Linked DNA regions of Homo sapiens. Changing the gene in region 1 together with any one later gene gives a genetic interaction. Each region holds a gene or a part of one and is shown on either strand. Other genes may lie near its edges. The genes, in order: EIPR1, ARMH3, TMED10 and CLEC16A.

Region 1 (7,040 bases):
GAGCTCTTCTCATGAGTGACACGTGGCACTTGGTGCCCCATGGCCAGGAGCTCCATTATCAGGACCCAGAGGCATGGTCAGAGCTGTTTATCAAAAGACATGGTTCTGTGCTGCAGATGGCATGGCTTGCTCCAGAACCCCGGGACCACGTGGTGACTCCAACCGGGCTCTCCACAAAGTCCACACTGCATGCTTTCTACCACTGACAACTTCCACACCAGCAGGTCTACTAGGCGTCCCCAGAAGCAGGGCTGCCTCTCCCCAGCCTGATCTTGCTGTAGTGCCCTCTTGGCCTAAGCTGGCAGCCTTACGTGCTACCCCAGCATCTGGGCTGGTCCAGCCTTCCTAGGTGTATAATGTGTCACCTCTAGAATGAAGAGGGCTGGCAGGCATTACAGCGTCTTTTCTGCTTTTGCTCTGGAGGGGAAGTCCTGGTGTCCTCAGCAGAAGTAGCAGGTCCTGGAATTGCCATAGCTTGTGTTTCCTGCCGTCTTGCCAAGGTCTTCTGCACGCTCCTCCTACGTTGTCACTGTAATGTCATGAATGCAGTGGGTCCATGTGATGTTCTGTGGGCTGCCCAGGTCTGTTTGGACTATATTATGATAGAAAATGGGAGACCAGCACAGCTCTGTGGCAAGAGTGTATACTGTTTTCCTTTGCTTGTGAATGCGGATGGTTTCTCATCTTCTTTCTTCATTGGGATAGGACAGCGTGCATTTGACGGTCTGTGTACACACATCATGTGCCTGAGGGCCTGGGAATCTGCTCTAACAAGACTCCACAGCTGGCACTGTGGATCTGAGTGGGCTCCTGCTTTGTTGAGCTTAGAGTCATCCACAGGCATTCTCCAGGGCCCATTAGCTTTCTGCAGAAGCCAATGGTGAATTCAGCAAAGCCACACCCACTTCATATCCTTGATTCTTAAAGTAAGCGCAGGTCTCTACCACTCTTTGATGGGTTGGGACGGGGAGGCAGTTTCAGAGGCTTCTATGTGACCTTCCCATTAACTCCACAGGTCACAGGCCCGGTATGGGTATTTCACAAACTGCCCAGGATGTCAATCCCATTTGACCTTAACAGACCTTGGAGTTGCCCACCAGGTGCGCCCACAGACTCAGAGGATCTGCGGTAAGCCAGGCCCTGCCTAGGACTTTACTTATCACCTGGCATCCCCATGCCCCACTCGGGCCGGAGGACAGTGGGACACTGGGTTGCTGGACCCCTGTGCGTGTCTTTGTGTTCAGCAGACCTGGAAATGTGTGGGGATTACCCTTTGCCCAGGGAATGGCATTCAGGAAAATGGCCGTGGGTCCCTTTGGGTACAGACTAGGGTAATCATTGCAGTGTACACCTGCCCTAGGGTTGCAGGTTCCTAACCCGTGGGGAATCTGACCATCTTTACCGTCAGTGGGTTCCAGCTCTGAAGCTGCCTCAAATCTGGATCTGGGTAAGGGATTGTGACTGTGAGTGGGGTGACTTCCCTCAGCCTTCTGCTCATTCATTCTTGTTTTCTTTTTAATATGTATGTACGTTATGTACGTTTGCACTCATGTGTGCATGTGTCAGGCAGGCAGTACTCTCCTTGAATGCCTTGTCTGTTTCACCCCTAGGAATACCAACTCTATTAACTGTCTCCACAGCCCTCTGCCAGTTGAGCTTCCTTGGCCGGCACTCTGGTCTCGTTGGTCATTATGATAATTGCCACCCCCTGACTTCTGGCAGTTACATACCGTCACCCGACCACATTTACTTGGGGCTGGGTTTAACTGCCCAAGTCAGAAAGCTGGACAAAGCTTATTATCAACAAGCCAAGCTTTGTGACAGCTTCTTCTAAGAGTGGAATTATTGGGTCATCTGGTAAGTGAATGTTCAACTGCAAAAGTGTTTTCCAAAATGTGTGTACTGTTTTACACTCTTTTTTCACAATCCGTGAGAGATCCAGTTACTGTACATCTTTGCCAATACTTGCTATTGTTGGTCTTTTTTAAATGAAAATTTCACCACTCTAGTAAGATGTGTGGTGAGTCTCACATGGTTTCACTTTGCCTCCTTCCAATTATTAATAATGTTGAGCATCTTTTCTGGTGCTTGTTGACCATTCATATGTTTTCTTTTGTGAAGTGTCTGATTTGGCGTAAGGTACATTTAAAAAAATTGGGTTGTTTCATTATTAAGCTGTGGGAGGTCTTTATATTTATTCTGGATACAGGCCTTTTGTCAGATATATGTATTATAAATATCTCCCCCAGTCTGTCTTTTCTTTTCTTTTGTTTTCTTTCTTTCCTTTCTTTCCTTCCCTCCTTCCCTCCCTCCCTCCCTCCCTCCCTCCCTCCCTTCCTTCCTTCATTTTTTGAGATGGAGTCTCGCTGTGTTGCCCAGGTTGTAGTGCAGTGGCACAATCTTAGCTCACTGCAACCTCCACCCCCCAGATTCAAGCAATTCTCTTGCCTCAGCCTCCCAAGTAGCTGGGATTATAGGCGCCCACCACCATGCCCAGCTAATTTTTATATGTTTAGTAGAGACGGGGTTTCACCATGTTGGCCAGGCTGCTCTCAAACTCCTGACCTCATGATCCGCCTGCCTTGGCCTCCCAAAGTGCTGGGATTACAGGCGTGAGCCACCATGCCCGGCCACTGCTTCATTTCTTTAATAGTGTCTTTCTGAAAGCAGAGTTTTTCATTTTGATTTTAAAGAAGTTTTAAATTTTAATGAAGTCCAATTAATAGGGTCTTTTGGTGAATAGAAGTTCTTAATTTTAATAGATTCTATGTTATTCGTCTTTTTCTGTATGATCCAGCTTTTTTTCCTGCCATTTAAGGAATCTTTGCTTGTCCCAAGGCTGAGAAGATATTCTACTATGTATTCTTGAAAAGATTTGTATTATTTTATCTTTACGTCTTTATCATCAGTCTAGCTGGAATTGGTTTTTGAGTATGTTATGAGGTAGGATACAAGTTTATTTTCTTTCATATGGATATACAATTGATCCAGCATCATTTATTGAAAAGACCATCCTTTCTCCACTCTTGAGTGTTATTTTTGTAGTAAAACAAGTGACCATCTTTCTAAGGGTCTGTTTCTTTCCAGCTTCCAAAACTTCATTGCTCTTCTATCCTTGTGGGTTTATGTTTTTAAAAGAAAATAGAAAGAAAAACCCCTCTTTGTTACAACATTAGAAGGGTTTCAGAATGGAGTAAAAGTTGAAGTGAGTGTAGATTCTCTTATCTATATTTTCTTGGAGGTTCCTCCATTGCCTTCTCTACTCTGTGAAGTTGATGGACTGTGGGGAGAGAGGTGAATAGCGCTACATGAACCGGATACGTGGAAACTTCATTGTCCAGCTGGTCACTTAAACATTGTATCTGGTGTAGACTTTGAAGGGAGGTAGCTTACCTGAGAGTGGAAAATCTTACTTCACCTGTACCACTTTTGCTTTATTGAGGGCAACGTGGATATAGTTAAGGAGTTTGGTGAGCTGGCGTTTACAGGAAAGTCACTTTCTTTACACCTGAACAGAATTCTCCAAAGAAGGAACTTGTTGGGGATGTGGGGGGGAGTGTCTGCCATTAGTCATTTCTTCCACAGAATAGCTGTTTTTACTATTCCCTGCCTTTGTCATCTTGTGTATTTCATTCATTTTGAAGTGCAGCCACAATTTAGTGCTCCCATTATTAGTTCTATAACTTGTAAGATTAGACATGTATTTTTCTACCATTTAGAAAGATTAAGATAATCTACACCTCTGTTGGGTTAGTGTGTGCTAGTGGGTTAGGCATTCATTTTTTTCTTTCCTACTCCAAATTGCCAACTTTCCCTTTGGTTATTTTTGTGTTTCCAGGAGTGCCATTGCCAATCTCGTGGGCTCTGCAGAAAGATCGTGTAACTGAAAATTTCAGCAAATAAATAAATAAATAAATAAATAAAATTCCCTTGTAGACAGAACTGTCTGTACACTCCATTTTTGTAAAGTTGGAAGTGTGAACATTATATGAATATATGATGGAGTTTTTTTTCTTTAAGCCATAATTGCATGTTCTTTTAGACCCAATATGGTATATAAAATGGTCACTGAATTTGGAATCAGAAAATCCTGGTTGAAGTCTTAATCTTTTAACTTCTTATCATTCAATCATGGTTAACAATGGTATTAATAATATTCACAAAGTTAGATATTTTGTCATTGAGTTCGTTGCTATATTGCTTGGTCGATTAGTTGATATTGAGATCGCAAGAGCATCATCACCAGTAAGTGATACATTTTCGATTGTAACCTAAGGTCGTTGTTATTTTGTAATGCCATGCTGTTTTCCTTCTTGTACTACCCATGAAATGTTTTTTTATGTTCTAACGCAATATATAATATTTTTATGTTCTTCACTTGTTATCAATTGATGATTTAATGTTGAATCCTGTTTGCTAGTTTATGATTATTCATTAAAGGCCATCTTTAAAAGGGAGAGGTGTTTAGCACATATTCAATTGAAAACTAAATGGAAAGCAAATTCTGAAAGGATTTATGTTCAAGAATTCAATGTTAAATCTAATTTTTAAAAAATTTATCATATTGAGAAATTTTCTAGAGCATCAGAGACCTTCCTTGGAAACAAGTGACCCCAGTCTTTCTAATGCAGGTTGAGTCTCTATCCACAAAGTGGCTTTTCTAGGTACTCTAGATTCCTGGAGCATCTTGAAAATAGAGTATCAAGACTCAGGGAGACCGAGCAGCCACCAGCAGGATCGTGTAAGGATGGCACTCTCATTTCTAGGAGAAGAGGCTGTATTGATGGTGACATGACCAGGCTGGGCTGCCACCTGCTGCCCACCAGGGCTCCAGGCCTCAGCATGCGATGCCTCTGAATGGCATTACCTTCCGGTCCCAGATACTCATCACTTTAGGTAAACTGAGGCAGAATAACATGCGTGACAGGATTTCCGAATGGAATATCGCTCAGTGTGCCTAATAGTCATTTAAGGTGATCTCATACAGCTATGGAGAGAAAACCCGTTTAATGCCAACCTTAGACACCAGCTGCGTGCGTGGTGATTATATCTTTAGTCCCCCATTTTGCTCCCTTTTTTGAAGAACTATTGAAGAAGAACGGAAGGAAATCGATTTTGAGGAAATTAAATTTTCTTTTGAAACAGCATGATGGTTTTTAAAACAAAGAGAAAGTGGGGAACAGGATGCTGATTACGAACCGTGCCGGGTTCTGCCTGCCGACTCAGGCTGTGCTTCTCCCTGCTCCGTCTTTGCTGCCTGCAATCGTACATATTTTAAAGAGCAGATGCGCGCTGCTTATGGATTTGTGTAAATGTGCGTGTGCTGTCTGCAGAATGCGGGGCACACCGTGCTCTGTTGACATTATCCATTATGCTCTGTTGCTCAGCTTCAGACAGCAAAGTCCTGACATGTGCAGCCGTGTGGAGGATGCCGAAGGAATTGGAATCAGGCAGCCACGAGTCCCCTGATGATTCATCCAGCACTGCACAGACCCTGGAGCTGCTCTGTCACCTTGACAACACAGCCCATGGCAACATGGCCTGGTAGGATTTTGCATATTTCATGCGCCCAGAACGAGCCTGCAGGTTGGCCAGGTGCAGGAGCTTGTGCAGATTCCTTTGCAGGAGCCACCGTCCACACCTCGGAAACGCTCCTTTCTTTTAAAAAGCTGCGAGAATTTGATTTTTAATTTTAGTCCCTGTGTTTTCTAGATTAGCCGCATTGACAGAAATGTAGCCAGCGCGCCTGCATCCCCACTTTCTCCTCTTCATCTAAGAGGAGTGTTGCCCGTGGGGACCTGCCAGAGGGTAAAGGGTCAGGCACTGCACTGCCCTCGAGCGCTGTGTGGCTTTTCAGCTTGGTCAGCATGCACTTATTCACACTCACATGGCAATTATTTACCACTTCAGGTTGAGGCTTACAATCCCTTCCTCCCGTGGACAAAGCATGAATGCGTGGTGTGCCTGTGGGGCTGCGTGCCCAAGCCCGCCCGTGTCCGGCATGTGGTGTGTCATTCACGTGGCTCCCTGGCCAGTCGCTGCTTCATGAGCTTGGAGGCCTGGCTGTGTGCACCCACTGGTCATTCCCAGGGACCTCTCCACGGCAGTCACAGCTGCTCTCTGAAGGCCCTGAGGCCTTGGTAAAAATTAAGAAGCCGTATTTTCTAAAGGAGATTGCGGGGGCATACTGTTGTTATGAGTGTTTACAATAACGATAGTGATTGTTTTACTTAATGCATTAACACATACACATGTGCGTGTGTGTCTGCAAGAGACAAATCGTTTGTACAGTGACTTCTGTCTCGTCAGTTCTACCAATTAAATAAATTTAATACAACAAATACTTATTAAATACCTGCTACAGAAACCCTGCCAGGCTCCAGGGACACCAAGGTGACAAGTTAGAGGGCCCGGCCTCCGAGAGTCATGATCTCCACGGGGAGACCCAGGGTGTACACAACTAACTGTGGCTGGGCCAGCCGTGGCGTACCCCGAAATCATTACGAACTGTACGCTGTGGCCCCGGAAGGAGCAGCCATTAATTGTTATTAGAGGAATTGAAGAGGGATTCGCTTACGAGGTGGAGTTTGGAACGGGGACTGAGGACCGACTCAGGTTTCCCTCGTCAGGTATGGAGGAGAGCAGTGCTGAGGGTCAGGCAGTCTGTGGCTCCGGATGCTCTCTGTGTATCAGTTTGTGGTGGAATTATTTTTATACTTGCTGTGCTTCTACCACGTCGGTGGATATTTCTTCTTACGGAGATGCTCTGAGTATTAAAATCACAGCCAGTCTTGCACAGTAAGGGGAGGCAGATGAAGAGTCCCAAAGTCCCCAGGAGTGATTGCCACTGCTGTCACTCCCCGCCCGAATGCAGGATCTCTGTGCAAACCACACAGCACTGTTAGGAGTTCCACATTTCAAATGATTGCCACATCCCCAGCAAATAGACATTTGTGCGCATGTGTGTGATGCACATGTGCACACATTTGTGCTTGTGTCTCTGTGCACACGTATGTGTGCACATTTGTGTATGTGTTAAT
Region 2 (5,115 bases), on another chromosome or scaffold:
TGGGAGGCAGAGGTTGCAGTGAACTGAGATCACGTCACTGTACTCCAGCCTGAGCGACAGAGCAAGACTCAGTCTCAAAAAAAAAAAAAAAAAAAAAAAAAGAGAGAGAGAGAAAGTGGTCCCAGAAACCTGAGGCATCGCTCCCTGTAGCCAGGCTGTTTTCTGGAAGATAAGTAATAAGCAAGGTTTCTTGGGGGTGTTGTCACAGACCAAACCCAACCCAGTAGATCAGCAGAATGGGGCTCAGGGTTGTGGGATTTGCATGGCCTAAGCCCTGCCTGGCCCTTGATGTCCTCCAGGTGCTGGAGGTGGTGAGAGCCAACTATGACACGCTCACGCTGAAGCTGCAGGATGGCCTGGACCAGTATGAGCGCTACTCAGAGCAGCACAAGGAAGCTGCCTTCTTCAAAGAGCTGGTGAGTGCCCCACCGCCTCTGCCTGTGTCTTAGGGGCCCGCCCCCAGCCACTGGGTTCTGCAGTTTATCTGCAGTTTATCTGCAGATAAAACAAGACTTGAGGGGTCTGCTGGGATGGGGTATGCAACTTCTCTCCCCCATTGTACCAGGCAGTAAGAGAAGATGCTATTCGAGGTAGTATTGCCTACTTCTCCTTTGCAGCCATGGAGACAGCCCTTGCACAGCTCCAGCTGGGCCTGGGGTTTGACGTGTGTTCCCAGCAGCAGATCTGGCTCATTATTCCTTAACCTGTCCTCAGGGCAACTAATAAAAGTAATTAATTCTTCCCCTTCTTATGGAATCACGTCTTCCTAAACTCCTAACTGGCCGCTGGTCTGAGTCCCCTCCCAATCTAGTTCTCCAGTCTCCATTCCCTGCTTTCCAATCACTTAGCTTCCTGCAGCCCCCACCCTTGGGCACTTGGAGCCATGAGCATTTGCTCTGCCTCCTACTTAAGTTCCCAGTCAGTGTCTCCACAGAGCTAGCCCTATTGATGGTCCCTTTCCTGCCCTGTACTCTGAGCTGTTCTCAAGAAAAGCTCAGCCCCCCTGCAGTCCTGTAACCCTACCAGCTTGGTTTACACAAACATCCTGGCTGGGGACTGAGACCAGGACCTGCAGGCCTCTGTACCCACTTCCCCTGTCCTTAGACCTCCCTCTGCTGGGGCTGAACTTGCGTCAGCTCAGCTTTTACTTACCCCATGCCAATTGTGGTGAAGGCACTGCGTATTAGATCGTTTGTCTTGTGCTAAACACAGCCCAACTCTGATCCTGACATGACATTCCTCAGGATTTTGGACTTCCACAGGGTCAGGAAGACATGCTCTGGGGTGAGTTAGTTTGGAACACAGAAACCATTAGTGTAAAGTGATAGCAGAGTGGAACATTTTTATGGGATGGTTGGCAAGTCTTTAAGTTGATGTGGAGGAAGTTCTGGGAGCAAATGGTTAACAGAGAGCAATCTGTGAGGAGCTGGAGAGGGTTACGGGAGCGGTGTCTCGAGGCTCTGAGACACTCACCACGGCCTTACTCAGTTCTGCTCATATTTGTTCCCCTGGCACAGGGGAGCAAAGAGGGTCTGGTCCAGTTTGGAGCTAATGAGCTCAAGTTTCCTGCTGTTTGCCATGCTGCCCTTTCCTCTGCTTCCTTCCTGATGACTTCATTAAGTTTCCTATAGCATAGCAGAAATTGAAGGAAAGCTCCTGAGACTTTGGGGCCCAGGGCAGACACACTCTCCTCCTCCTTCCCCTTTTTGTTTCTCAGGCAATCTACACAGCTATTTCCTGTGGGGAAATCTCCTTGAAGAGTCTGCCAGATTCCTCTTGGAACCCTCTCAGAGTAGGGACTTGGGCCCTCTGACCCTTTCTCTACAGGCTTTTACCCTGCTGACCCAGGCAACACTGGGTTAGGGTTCTGTGGGTAGAGAGTATGTGAGGTGAGCAGTGGGCACACAGCAAGGATACGCCCCAGACTTTCCTCTCGAGTGGGCAGGCATCTTTAGAAGGAGTGCTAGACTAGGAGTTAAGAACCCTCGGCCCTGCTCCCAAGCTGGGACTCACTAGCAATGTCACCTGGCCCTGGCCATTGAAATTGGCCTCCTTGGATCCTACTCTTGCCATCTGTGCCAGAAAAGGACTGCATCTCTAAATGCTCCTTCTAACCCCAAAATGTAAATAAATCCAAAGGGAGAGTGAAGAGACTAGAAACACATCTAAAGAGAGGTGGTGCTAGAGCATGAGTCTTCTGGCCTCAGTTTCTCCTCCTCCATCAGATCACTGAGCAGCCCAGTCCCCCTTCTGCATAGCCAAAGCAGAGACAGATGTCAGCCTCAGCCCTCCTTTCTTGTCTGTGCCTGCTTCTACCTCCCCAGGAGCCCAGATGCTCTTCTTACATCCTCCAGAGTTTGTTCCTGTCCACCCCTCTTCTCTCCTTCCCTGCTGTCAAGGAACTGTTTGCTCATTTGCCTGCAGGGATAATAGCTGTTAAGGGTTCATTTCCTAAGAGAGAGACTTCTAGTGCCCCGTGTAGCAGGCACTGTCCTCTGCCGTTTAGAACTGACTCTCTCCTGTTTTCTCTCTGGCTGCGCCCTCCCACCTTCCCCAACTACCCTTTCCCAGGTTCGATCCATTAGCACCAACGTCCGGAGAAACCTGGCCTTCCACACACTCAGCCAAGAAGTCCTGCTCAAGGAGTTCTCCACTATCTCCTGAGGCCACGCCTACCTGAGCAGCCTCTGACTGCCCTTACCCATGAGGATCATGGGCTGGAGGGGGAGCGAGGGGAGAGGGGGCTGCCCCCGAGGTTGGAGAGAAACACAGATACCAAGTTCTCTTGGTGAAGACCGCACTTCAATGGAGCTTGGGCAGCAGGGGCAGGAGGGTCAAGCCAGGGATAATCTTATTTGGGGAGGAATGGGTGGGCACAGTGGGGAGAGGCCTCCAGGAATGTGGGGACTTCCAGAGTGGGCTCCCTAAACAGCCCCTCACATTTCCAATCTTGAGGTTACAAGCTGTAGCTACTGACTAATTTTCGGGAGCTGGTGAGGCAAGCCTCAGGGTAATGCCAGCACCCTGAAAGTCAGTGGCTCTGCTCGGCTTCTGAAAACAGATCAACTCTCAGATATAGCTGGAGCTACATCCTGCTTCCTTTGGGCCTGGGGCTGTGCTTGGCTTGAAATCTGTGTCCCCTGCCTGCACTGGCACTTTGTCCAGTCATCGGGACCTTTGGCTCAGATTTAGGGTAAGATAGGAATAGGGTACCTTTTTCCTTTTTTTTCTGAGACGGAGTCTCACTCTGTCGCCCAGGCTGGAATGCAGTGGCGTGATCTCGGCTTTACTGCAGCCTCCGCTTCCTGGGTTCAAGCGATTCTCCTGCCTCAGCCTCCCGAGTAGCTGGGACTACAGGAGCGTGTGCCACGCCCGGCTAATTTTTTGTATTTTTAGTAGAGATGGGGTTTCACCATGTTACCCAGGATGGTCTCAATATCCTGAGTTCATGATCCACCCACCTTGGCCTCCCAAAGTGCTGGGATTACAGGCGTGAGCCACCACACCCAGCCAGTTTTCCTATTTTCTGAATTCAGAATTGACTTCTCTGGGAAAACTGGAGATGAGAATCTGCCCAGTGCTCTGCTGTCCAGTCACCGCCTTTTGAATTTTAGTTTTGGCACCAGGAGTACCGTTAGCTTTCCCCTTCTTCTGGCCCATTTGACTCATCAGCACAATAGGGTCACCACCTTAACTTTTAATTTCTAATCTGCTTTACTGTCTTTAGGGTGTGTATGAAATAAACATTGACAGGCTTTCTGGAGCCCTCAAGGTGCCTACTTTGCTGGTTCCCTTTCCAGCAGCTCCCCCACCTCCCTTAGCCCCCCCTCCTCTGGCAGCCTCTCCTGCCTCTGCTGAGCTCCCCTCCACGTGTTCCACCCCCTTACCCTGCTGTTGTTTACATCCAACCTGCCTGAGAATTTCCTCTGGGGAGGAATCTATTCCTGTCATGGTCTAGTGCCTGGGAGGGAGAGAACTTTCTGGGGGTAGGGTGCCCTCCATCTGAAACAGGCCAGGTGAGCATCATGCATAAGGCCTCCATTCTGTCCGCTCAGATTCTGGGTGGGGCCACAGGCAAATCTCCTGACTTATGGGGAGTTGGCTTGTGGTTCCTCCCTTGGATAGCCTCCATGGAACCACTATAGGCTTTCCCAACAGCTGCCTCTGAAATAGCTGCTGCTTCGAGATCCTCCCTTTTTAAAGCACTTTCTAAAGCCCTCAGGATGGCGGGAGCAAACAGCACTGGTATATTCTAGGAGTAAGTGCAGGAATTCAGCAGTGAGAGCATGTCTGGGACCACCTGGACTGCCATCCATTTAACCTCAAATCTCTTTGGGATACTCGCCCTCCCTGGGAACCAGAGTTCTGGCTCTAACATTGAGCAGCTATGCACTAGTTCCAGAGAAGCCACTAACAGGCTGCCATGTGTAGATGTAGGTTCTTAAGAGATCACAGGCTGGGTCATCTGATCACTGGATGGATAGCTCAGCCTGGGGCATTTAGTGTTTTCCCTGGTGATAAATCCCCAAGGCAGCTGGATTTGGAGCTGGTGGCAAGTTGAAATTATTAAAAATTGATTTGTGTGGGACTGTCTTTAGTGTTGCTTTTTTTTTCCTTAATCTCTGTTGCCCAGACTCATTCCTCAAAGATAGAGGTAAGGTAATCTCCTAGGTGCTGCTGCCATCTGGCTAGGGGACCCCTACCTGCCCTTGTGAACTCTCCTCCTTCCTCTGAGTCTCCTGGCCCTAGTAGAGGTCAGTTGGGTTCGGAGAGCTGTAACCTCTCTTGTCCTCTGGGTAGAAGGAGGGAGAAGAGAGTTAGTTCCCTTATCTCCAAACTTAGTGGTATTGAGGAGGCAAGCCAACCCATTTGGCCACTTACGGATTCCTGCCAGCCTTTCCTCCAAGTGAATGAGGACAGGTCTAGGGCATGGGGCACTAAGCAGAGGGCTCCTTGCCCTCCATTGTAAAGGCCCTTCTCTTGACCAGTTTATTCACATATACCTATCCCAGAACTCCAAACGAGAGTGCCCATTCTCTCCTGGAAATCAACCTTAACAGGAGCTGCCCAAGCACTTTCTATGCCCAGCCTCTATACCAGGTCTGTGGAGCCTCC
Region 3 (7,203 bases), on another chromosome or scaffold:
ACCCAGCCAATTTTTGTATTTCTAGCTGAGATGGGATTTCACCATGTTGGCCAGGCTGGTCTCGAACTCCTGACCTCAAGTGATCTGCCTGCCTCAGCCACCCAAAATGTTGGGATTATAGGCGTGAGCCACCGCGTCTGGCCCAATGGTAACTTCTTTTTTTTTTTTTTCTTGAGATGAGTCTCGCTCTTTCGCCAGGCTGGAGTGCCATGGCGCAATCTCAGCTCACTGCAACCTCCACCTCCCAGGTTCAAGCAATTCCCCTGCCTCAGCCTCCCAAGTAGCTAGGACTACAGGCACGTGTCACCACGCTGGGCTAATTTTTTGTATTTTAGTAGAGACGGGGTTTCACCATGTTGGCCAGGATGGTCTCCATCTCCTCCTGACCTCATGATCCGCCTGCCTCAGCCTCCCAAAGTGCTGGGATTATAGGCTTGAGCCACGATGCCCGGCCGGTAACTTCTTTAACACAGGTGCAGGCTTAAAAGTCTTGGTTCCATTCCACAGCATACAGAGGAGAATTGTTTTTGTTTGTTTGTTTTTCTGTGTCCTTATATAGAAACAAGAGTGTATTTTCCATTTTTTTTAAGAAAAGATAGACATGTTGGTGACACTGAAACTGTACCTATGCTTTAGATACATTATGGATTAAACAAATTTATGTGAAAACAGCTAAAGAATAATGGGAGAAATTTGTGGTTGCGCTTTCTAAGGTACCAGTCTTAAATTCATTGTACCATTATTTATTGTACCTAAGTGCTAGGCACTGTTTTAGGTTCAGAAGATAAAACAGTGAAAAAATAGATAAAAATCCCTGCCCTCACAAAACAGACATTCTAGTTAGGGAGACAGACTAATAAACACAATAAGTAAGTAAAATGTATGCTTTATTTGATAGTAATGAGTGCTAAGGGGAAAATTATAAAGGAGGGAAGAAAGACAGGAGGTGTTGGAGGATGGGGATAAGTAAGACTACAGGACAAGAAAGGACTGGAAGCCGGGCGCAGTGGCTCACACCTGTAATCCCAGCACTTTGGGGGCTGAGGTGGGCAGATCGCAAGGTCAGGATGTTCAAGACCAGCCTGACCAACATGGTGAAACCCTGTCTCTTCTAAAAATACAAAAATTAGCCGGGCATGGTGGTGCGCGCCTATAATCCCAGCTACTCAGGAGGCTGAGGCAGGAGAATCACTTGAACCCAGGAGGGGCAGGTTGTGGTGAGCTGAGATCGCACCACTGCGCTCTAGCCTGGGCAACAGAGCCAGACTCCATCTCAAAAAAGAAAAGAAAGGACTTGAGAGCTGTGACACAGAAAAGTAACTGCTGTGCATCTGAGTTTCTTCATCTTTAAAATAAGAAATAATAGCATCTTCCTGAGGATAGCTCAGGCCCCTAGACTGCTTTTGTCACTTTTAAGCTTATGAGGTTTGGGGTACTGACAAAGATTCTCTCCTTGACCAAACTTTACCCACGCTGTTCTGATCTGTCTTCTCAATAGGCTCTGACTTTTGGACTTCCATGACTCTGCATTGTCCAATTTTAGGAAGAATCCTGCTAAGTTAGTTTAGCCAGAATCTCCCCTTACTCCCAATATTTCCTTTTAGTAATTTTCCATCCACTGACCCTGATTTTTGGCTGTAAATCCCTACTTTTCCTTGTATTTGGAATTGAGCCCGATCTCTCCTTCCTACTACAAAACCCCATTGTCATAGGCCCTTGTATTACCTATCTTGGCAGTCCCCCTTGAATAAAGATTTGCTTTACAATTTTTTTTTTTTTTTTGAGAAGGAGTCTCGCTCTGTCGTCCAGGCTGGAGGGCAATGGTGTGATCTTGGCTCACTGCAACCTCCACCTCCTGGGTTCAAGCAATTCTCCTGTCTCAGCCTCCCAAGTAGCTGGGATTACAGGTATCCACCACCATGCCCGGCTAATTTTTTGTATTTTTAGTAGAGATAAGATTTCATTATGTTGGCCAGGCTGGTTTCGAACCCCTGACCTCAAGTTATCCGCCCGCCTTGGCCTCCCAAAGTGCTAGGAGTACAGGTGTGAGCCACCGCCTCTGGCCTGCTTTACAGTTCTTTAACAAATGTCATGAAGTATTTTTTCTTTAACAGTATAATTATTTGGCCTCTCAGAACCTCGGTTTCCTCATCTGTAAAATGAACAGATTGTCCAGACTATTTCACAGGGTTTTTGAAAATGTCAGAGGAGATCATTATGATATGTGAAAATATTTTAAATTGCATTATCTATTATGTAAATGTAAGATGGAAATTTAAAGGAAACACATACACAGTTTTTTCATGGGTTGAGATCTCTTGCTATTGGTCAGCAGAGCCTCAGGAATGCAAGTAGACAATGAATTAGATAACTGCTTATACTGATTCCCTGCATTGGCAGGGAAAAGGCCAATGCAAATTATCAGGATGTACTGTGTGGACTACCAATCTTATCTTAGATCAGTGATACAACAATCCAACTAAATGCTCCTAAGTGGACACCTCATAAAATAATTATTGTATGGCATTTGTCAAAATTTTAAATGCTTTACAGCTCCTTTGTTTGTTCTTGTTTTGTCTGTGGGATTTCATTTCTAGGAAAATAACTAAATGGACTAAGTTTAAAAAAAAAAAACACCAATCATGTACATTACTAAGGGCAGACAGTCCATCTTCTGGATATTTCTGAAGATGCTCAATAAACGTTAATCAAAGTAGGTAATGATTCCCAACATGGGCTATTGTGTCTTCCACGTTTATTTTCTACACTTGATGTTAGCCAAAAGGCCAAGGAGCAATTCCATTTTCTTTCTTTCCTTCTTTCTTTTCTGAGACAAGTCTCACTCCGTCGCCCAGGCTGGAGTGCAGTGGCGCCATCTCAGCTCACTGCAACCTCCATCTCCCGGGTTCAAGCAATTCTCTGCCTCAGCCTCCTGAGTGGCTGGGATTACAGGCGCCCGCCACCAAGCCCAGCTAATTTTTTTGTATTTTTAGTAGAGACGGGGTTTCACCATCTTGGCCAGGCTGGTCTTGAACTCCTGACCTCGTGATCCACCCGCCTCAGCCTCCCAAAGTGCTGGGATTACAGGTGTGAGCCACCGCGCCTGGCCGTTTATTTTAATATATTCTTCAGCTCTGAATATTTGCTAGTATCCCAGTAATAGTTTGTTAAATCAATAAACGTGTTGACATACATGCATAGCATAATGTCTGGCACACAGTAGGTACTCCATTGAATGAATGCATGAATTATTACCGTGTCAATTTGCTTGTCTATTTGCAAATGTTAATAGTTAATTTGATCCCTAAAGTGTTTGTGAACTTAAAACACACACATACGCACTTTCCCTGACAACGCTTATCTGCTAACCCCTTAATTATGTTCATCTGAGACTGGACCAAAACATGTTGTTTTATTCAATTTAAATACCAAATTCAAATTTATTTTGAATATAGCTTAGAACACATTCAATGTTTGCTAAAATAATAATAATAATAATAATAATAATAATAATAATAATACCATGTACATTCAGTTAGCCAGACAATTACTCCAGCCCAAATACCCTGCTATGGGACATGAACCGGATGTCTGCCCGGCACACATTCATCAGGTGACCCCTAAAACTTCTTCTCTAAGGTCCACACTGTCTAATAGCCAAGTTGAAATCTTTCCTCGAAATTTTCCTCTCTAGTGTCTCAGTGCCCCAGGTGTCATCAAGGTGTCAAAGGCGCTTGGGAGTGCCTGCAAACCGCCCCATCCCCGGAGACACAGCCTCATTCCCCGCCCTCGCGCCTAGGCGGCCGGTGGGCGGGCCCAGCGAAGGGCCTTGTGGCTGTTTCCTATTGGGGCTTGGTTGCTATGGTGTCACTCGCCTTTAAACTCGTGGGTACATCTTTCGGAAATTAAAGGAGAATTACTTCCAGGGCTGCCCATACTTGCCATGGCCGACTCAGTAGTCACTAACTTCAACAAAAATAAAACTGTTGCAATAGTATTCTATTAAAGCTTCTTTAACTGCTTAAACTTGCGGTTTTGACATGGTACCTATCCTTTCTTCCCTTTTCAAAAGATTCGCTATAGAGTCTTTCTCTACATGCCAGTCTCCAAAATGGCGCGGACGGCATCAGAAGGTCAGAGGTGAGTCACGTGGGTCCCCCCGGTTCCGGCGCGGTTGAGGCCTTCGGTGGTGAACGAGTCTCCAGCACCATGTCTGGTTTGTCTGGCCCACCAGCCCGGCGCGGCCCTTTTCCGTTAGCGTTGCTGCTTTTGTTCCTGCTCGGCCCCAGATTGGTCCTTGCCATCTCCTTCCATCTGCCCATTAACTCTCGCAAGTGCCTCCGTGAGGAGATTCACAAGGACCTGCTAGTGACTGGCGCGTACGAGATCTCCGACCAGTCTGGGGGCGCTGGCGGCCTGCGCAGCCACCTCAAGGTGCGGCATTGGGCGACGTGGGGCCGGGAGGGAAGACGGCAGGCTTAGGCGAGGGGAGGCTCGGGTTCGGGGGAGTCGGGCCGGCGGAGGCCTGGGAGTTGTTCTGGCCTCCCGGGAGCGCAAAGGACGTGCGGTGGAGCCCGCCCCCTCACCCCGCTGGTTGCCTGTCGCGGGGCGGGGCGGGTCACCAACGCCTGGGAACCCCAAGAAGGGCTGCGAGGCTTTGGCGGATGTGGTGACACCTGAGCTGGGGCGGTTGTCAACGTCCTATACCAGTTTTGGTCTCAGATACATTGAACCGTAATTTGGTTCTCCAAATAAATGTTGGGGTGTTGAATATTTATACGGATTGGCATCATAAGATACCGCGATACCTGCAGGAAAGTAAAGGAGACAGAGCTAACCGTGATTAATAAAATGTTATTTATTGAGCATCTGCTGTGTCAGTTACTGTGCTACTTTGCATATATTACCATTTGGTTCATGCACTACCCTATGAAGTAGGTAGGTACTGTTAGCCCCATTTTACAAATGAGGAAACTGAGACTCAGAGGTAGGATAAACTAGTAAGTGTCACAGATGGAATAGATTCTTTTTTTTTTTTCAAAATTATTATTATACTTTAAGTTCTAGGGTACATGCGCACAACTTTCAGGTTTGTTACATATGTATACATGTGCCGTGTTGGTGTGCTGCACCCATTAACTCGTCATTTACATTAGGTATGTCTCCTAATGCTATCCCTCCCACCTCCCCCCACCCCACGACAGGCCCCGGTGTGTGATGTTCCCCACCCTGTGTCCAAGTGTTCTCATTGTTCAATTCCCACCTATGAGTGAGAACATGCGGTGTTTGGTTTTCTGTCCTTGCGATGGAATAGATTCTTACTTAGTTTGGTAGTTAAGTATGTTGAGGGAAAAGCGCTGCAACCTTATTCCTTCCTTGTTTTAAATTTGTAATTTCTGTAGTTGATTAAAGTCGATTATTGGTTACAAAATGGTCTCAGTCTCTAGTCCTTTTTCTTTGGTATGCCAGAATCTGGACTTGGCTCTTTTATGTAAATACCAACTATGCTCTTGGATGGTGACAACTACTGCCATAATACCAGTTTGATTCTGTTTTGTAGCTAAGAGTAGCCTGGCCTGGTCTTTGAGACATTAATATAATTTGATATCTGTCAGTATTTGGTTGCATTTTAGGTAATTTTATTCATTCACAATAAGCAAAGTGTCTTTTTTTTTCTTTGTAACACAATGGGGCTTTTGTTATACTAAATAGAAACATTTTTACTTTTTTTTTTTTTTTTTTTTTTTTTGAGACGGAGTCTTGCTCTGTCGTCCAGGCTGGAGTGCTGTGGCGCGATCTCGGCTCACTGCAGCCTCTGCCTCCCGGTTTCAAGCAATTCTCCTGCCTCAGCCTTCCGAGTAGCTAGGACTACAGGCGCCAGCCACCACACCCAGCTAATTTTTGTATTTTAGTAGAGATGACGGTTCACCATGTTGGCCAGGATGGTCTTGATCTCTTGACCTCGTGATCTGCCCGCCTCGGCCTCCCAAAGTGCTGGGATTACAGCCGTAAGCCACCGCGCCTGGCCTCGTTTTTACTTTTTAAAAGGGTTTCAGATATAATAAGACCATAACTTATGTTAAAGTAGTGGAACCCAGTAGTGTGGTAATACATGTAATTTATTTCTACTTTATTTGGGAGAGACAAACTATTTTCAGGGCAATTAATCTGTGACCCATCATTTTATTATTCTGTTTGGGTATCAAACTCTCTACCCAGGAAAATAGTGATGGCATGATTTTAGAAGCTTAGATATAGTGTTTCCGGGGTGGGAGATCATGCTTCCAACTCTTCAGAGGATGTTCATGGACTCAGGGAATTTCAGCAATGAAAGAGACCTTGCTCTCATCTCGTGTTGCTGTCTGATTTGTTCTTATATTTTAAAGCCCTTCAGTGGCTCACTATTGCTTATTGATAGTTTAAATTTCTCAACATGCTTTGTTGTGCTCTTCATGATCTGTTTCTGAGCTATACGTGTGGTCACTTCCCACTTTGCATTCTACATGGAGCCACCCTGGACAGTACCCTGAACTCACTTATTTTCTGAACTGTTTTTGTTTATGCCTTGACCTACTTACTAGACTGTTAGTATCCTCAGGGTAGGAACTATTTTCAGGTTCATCTTTTCTAGAATGCCAAGCATGTTACCTTGCTTCTAGTAAGTACTCTATAAATAACAGGAACTGTAGTTTAGCATGGCCTTATGGGAATTACATTGAATTTAGGGCTGCTGAAGGCACCTCAACAGCAGGACTTTAGGCCGGGCTTGGTGGGTCATGCCTGTAACCCTAACTCTTTGGGAGGCCGAGGCGGGTGGATCACCTGAGGTCAGGAGTTCAAGACCAGCCTCAGCAACATGCTAAAATCCAGTCTCTACTAAAAATACAAAAATTAGCTGGGCATGGTGGCGTGTGCCTGTAATCCCAGCTACCCGGGAGGCTGAGGCAGGAGAATCACTAGAACCTGGGAGGCAGTGGCTGCAGTGAGCTGACACCGTGCCACTGCACTCCAGCCTGGGCAACAGAACAAGACTCGGTCTCAAAACAAAACAAAACAAAGCAAAACAAAAACCAGCAGGACTTTGTGCACACACCCTAGCACTTTACTATCACTCAGTTGCTCTCCTGTGTCTGCTCTGTTCTTTTGCTACTAACCAGCTTAATGGAACCACAAGGGTCCTAAACCCAAATGCCAAATAGGTAA
Region 4 (4,163 bases), on another chromosome or scaffold:
CCAGTTGACCCCCACAGCCTCCGCAGCCTCACCGGCATGCCCCCGCTGTCCACGCCGGCTGCCGCCTGCACAGAGCCCGTGGGCGAAGAGGCTGCATGTGCTGAGCCTGTGGGCACCGCTGAGGACTGAGTCAGTGCCGGGGCCTCCCTTTGTGTGTGTGGCCCCGCTGGTAGGGACCCCAGTGCCGCTGACTGGCAAGACACACTGGGAGCACCCACCATTCTGTGCGGCCCCCAGCAGCCATCTCAACCACCTATCCCTGCGCTCCCTTGAATGGGAAGAAGCCCCACGTTGTCCTTGAATTCCTTTTTCACTTTGCATCTCTTCACGTGCAGGCTGGGACCAGCGGAGACACCGCGGCGAATGCAGATGACTGCACCGGCCACTCAGGGAGCTGCCTGGGCTCCGTGTCTCTGAGCCCCGGGTGGCAGGACCCACCGGCACCTCTTTCTTCCTCTGTCATATGGCTCCTCTGTCACCAGCCCCAGTGTGCACAGAAGAATTGGACCAGGTCACTGTACGTAGAAATTTGTAGAAAAGCAGACTTAGATAAACATCTCCTTTGGATATTTATTTCCGCTTTTGGCAGCAGGTGAACATTTATTTTTAAAACTTCTATTTAAAAGAAGTCCAAAAACATCAACACTAAGGTTTGATGTCATGTGAAAAGTGTAATAATAACAGTTAAGATTTCATGATCATTTTCACTGGACCTTTCCTGATATTTTGTTTCAGAGTTCTTAGTGTGGCTTTTTCCATTTATTTAAGTGATTCTTTGTTACTCACTAACTCTGCAAGCCTGTGGAATAATGAAGTACCTTCCTGGAAAGTTTGGATTATTTTTTAAACAAAAACAAGGGAGATACATGTATTCTCAGGTACACACAGAGCTGAGAGGGCTGAATGGTTTTCTGCTATAGCAGCCGAGAGGCCTCCCATCATGGAAAGATTTCTCCAGGAAAAGGAGGAATGTAGCCAGCTCCCCACTCAGGACGCTTCCTCATTTCTCTTCACCAAAACCAAACAGAGACAGCTTCCAGCACCTTCTTCAGTGTTACCATCTCTAAGAAGGAACCAGTTGGGACCGTGAAGACTCCCGACCCTGTGGCCATGATGGAAATCAAAGGAAGACACCCTCTACGTCACCTGCCCTCGACTGTGTGTGCCCACATGTGCCGAGAGATGGCCCAGAGCCAGTTCCCCTCCAGCTGCAAGGGCATGGTGTCCCCAGAGCTCTGAGTCTGTCACTCTCCCTCTGCTACTGCTGCTGATCTGAATATGGAAACCCCATGGTTCCCTTCCCCATTCGGACTGGGTGTGTACAAGCAAGGACCCAGATGCATCAGACACAGCCCCCAAGATGTTCCTTTCTACTCGGCCAGCTCGGGAGCCAGACACAGCACTCACAGCCCAGGCCGTGATCCACCCTCCCCAAGTCCACCAGGGCCAGCGGCCCCTCACCTCTCTGGTCACTGGTGAGACCTTCCACAACTTTCCTCCAGACCTGCCAGCAGATGTGCCCACCAGGGGCATTAGGTATCCGCCGGAGCCTGGCCATAGGGTAGTCTCGGGAGCCGCGCTGAGATCTTTTGCCACCTGCATTTTAGAAGAACATGGTCTCTGTCTCCTCGGCCCAGCCAGCTGTCCCGGCAAGGCCTGCCGAGGGCAGTTTTCAACCTCATGAAGGAAACACAGTCCTGCCAAGGAGGGGGAGTGGCGCCCATGGGGACAGGCCTCAGTCCTTAGAAGCCCTCTGGGTAGCTGTGCCCACCCAGCCTTCATGGCTGCAGGTACAAGGACCTTTGCTTCCATAGAGAAAACGCACAGCTCAGAAAGGGGGCCACATGGGCAGAAACCCAAAGGAAGGACAAACCACGACCACCGTGGCCATCTGCAGAATCCCTGGAAGAGAAGGAAGGCAGGGTGGAGCGGGGGGAAGACCATCATGGAGAGAAGGACCACAGCATCAGGAGACGGGACACGCCACACCCAGCAGGCAGCCTGTGTGTTGCTTAATTTTTTAAGAGCAAGAGGGGTAGAGAGGATCAAGCTGGCCCTGGCTGGAGATGGCTAGCCCCTGAGACATGCACTTCTGGTTTTGAAATGACTCTGTCTGTGGGGCAGCAGAAACTAGAGAAGGCAAGTGGCTGCCCCACCCCAAGGCGTGACCAGGAGGAACAGCCTGCAGCTCACTCCATGCCACACGGGTGGGCCACCAGCCTGCTGTCAGAAGTCTCTGGGCTCCAACTGGTCTTGTAACCACTGAGCACTGAAGGAGAGAGGTCTTGGTCAGGGCTGGACAGCATGCCCGGGAGGACCAGCAGAGGATTAAAGGTGACTGGGAGGACCAGCGGAGGATAAAAGACACTGCTCAGGGCAGGGCTTCTACCCTGCATCCCTGGCCAAGAAAAGGGCAGTCCCCATGTGGGCTTGCAGGGTCACTCTCAGGGGCCTCTTTCAGCTGGGGCTGGCAACTTGCGTCTGGGGGACACCTCCAGGTGTGTGGGGTGAGGATTTCCTATAACCAGGGCTCCCAGAAGCTTTGCTTATGTAAGGAGGTCTGGGAGCCAGCCCATTGGAGGCCACCAGCCATTTTGGCTTCAAAGGACCCCACCTCACCCAGGTCTCAGCGGCAGTGGGCACAGCTATGTCTTCAGGAGCTCCCGTCAAACCTCATAGCTGGGGCGCTCCCAGACAGGCCAGTCCAGACAGGACACGCTGGGCCCCTGGCATCCAGAGGAAGAGCCAGGAGTGTGGGAAGGCCCACAGTGGGGGCTGTGGCTTCTGACACTCAGGTCATAGCCTCAGAGGTCTGAGGTCAGCCCCCACAGACCCATCCGGCCCGCCCCCCAAGTCCCTGCAGAGAGCACTTAGAGTTATGGCCCAGGCCCTGGTCCACCCTTCCCCTGTGCACCTCCGGCTGGGTTTGCCAAGTCAGGGAGCAGGGCTGGCCGCAGGAACTCCCAAACCTTGGCTTTGAATATTGTTGTGGAGGTGTGCTCGTCCCTTTCTGGACGTGCAAGGTACCTGTCCCAGCAGGTCAGATGGGGCCAGCTGAGGCGCTCCCCCAGGCAGGAAGGGCCAGCCTTCACCATCGCGTGGGATTGGGAGGAGGGGCCTCCGTGAGCAGCCCCTCCTCTGCCGCTGTCCCAGCCCAGTCCCTCTCCCGGAGCCTTGGCAGCCTCCCACAACCCAGACACTTGCGTTCACAAGCAACCTAAGGGGCAGGTGAAGAAGCGCAGCCCTGCCAGACGCGCTAGATTCCTCTAAGGTCTCTGAGATGCACCGTTTTTTAAAAAGGCGTGGGGTGAACTGATTTTGATCTTCTTGTCTAGATGCAATAAATAAATCTGAAGCATTTAATGTAGTCATCTTGACATTGGGCCTACACTGTACGAGTTCCTTATGTTTCCTTGAGCTAAAAATATGTAAATAATTTTTGTCCCAGTGAGAACCGAGGGTTAGAAAACCTCGATGCCTCTGAGCCTCGGGACCGCTCTAGGGAAGTACCTGCTTTCGCCAGCATGACTCATGCTTCGTGGGTACTGAACACGAGGGTGGAAATGAAAACTGGAACTTCCTTGTAAATTTAAACTTGGCAATAAAAGAGAAAAAAAGTTACCAAGAATGTAGCGTGCTGCTCCTGGGGGCTGTGGCAGGAGGCCGTGGCCTGGCACAGGGGAAGGTTCCCAGCCAATGACCCCTCATCCCGGCGCAGCTGCTTGGCAGGGGTGTGGTGGCTGGAGCCCCTCCCTCTCCCTCCTCCCCGCACCAGGTTCCCTCCCATCCCCAGGTTCCTAAGAGGTTGTCGGGGCTCATACAACCCGGGAATAACTGCTAAGGGGCAGTTGGCACCATCAGGAAATGTCCCCGCCCTACCCCTGCCGGGTACAGGGAGCGTGGTCCACATTCTGCATCTTTTCCCTGTTGGGCAGGTGGCTGCCCATCCAAGCCTCAGGCTCTGCATCTGTGGATTTGGACAGCCAAGCCCTACCTCGCAGGACAAGCGTAGCGAGCAGCGTCATTGTTGCCAGGCTGGGCCGAGGGAAGCAGGAAGGCTCCCCACCGAGGACAGAGGTGAAGTGCGGGGGTGGACATGACTCGGAAACACCAACGTCCACCAGCGTGAAACCCTGAAATCCCTGGAAACAGGATCACAGGTT

The links.
Region 2: changes in EIPR1 (region 1) and ARMH3 are lethal when combined (synthetic lethality), as found in Homo sapiens cells (one study listed by BioGRID).
Region 3: changes in EIPR1 (region 1) and TMED10 are lethal when combined (synthetic lethality), as found in Homo sapiens cells (one study listed by BioGRID).
Region 4: changes in EIPR1 (region 1) and CLEC16A are lethal when combined (synthetic lethality), as found in Homo sapiens cells (one study listed by BioGRID).

Annotation. Positions count from the first base shown.
Region 1 is NC_000002.12:3,255,803-3,262,842, reverse strand, and holds part of EIPR1 (EARP and GARP complex-interacting protein 1), read left to right. Parts: intron 1-5,387; coding exon 5,388-5,544; intron 5,545-7,040. UniProt on the Homo sapiens protein: Acts as a component of endosomal retrieval machinery that is involved in protein transport from early endosomes to either recycling endosomes or the trans-Golgi network.
Region 2 is NC_000010.11:101,845,077-101,850,191, reverse strand, and holds the end of ARMH3 (armadillo-like helical domain-containing protein 3), read left to right. Parts: intron 1-299; coding exon 300-416; intron 417-2,571; coding exon 2,572-2,664; 3' UTR 2,665-4,593; downstream 4,594-5,115. UniProt on the Homo sapiens protein: Involved in GBF1 recruitment, Golgi maintenance and protein secretion.
Region 3 is NC_000014.9:75,173,586-75,180,788, reverse strand, and holds the start of TMED10 (transmembrane emp24 domain-containing protein 10 precursor), read left to right. Parts: upstream 1-4,176; 5' UTR 4,177-4,209; coding exon 4,210-4,434; intron 4,435-7,203. UniProt on the Homo sapiens protein: Cargo receptor involved in protein vesicular trafficking and quality control in the endoplasmic reticulum (ER) and Golgi.
Region 4 is NC_000016.10:11,178,562-11,182,724, forward strand, and holds the end of CLEC16A (protein CLEC16A), read left to right. Parts: coding exon 1-129; 3' UTR 130-3,625; downstream 3,626-4,163. UniProt on the Homo sapiens protein: Regulator of mitophagy through the upstream regulation of the RNF41/NRDP1-PRKN pathway. Mitophagy is a selective form of autophagy necessary for mitochondrial quality control.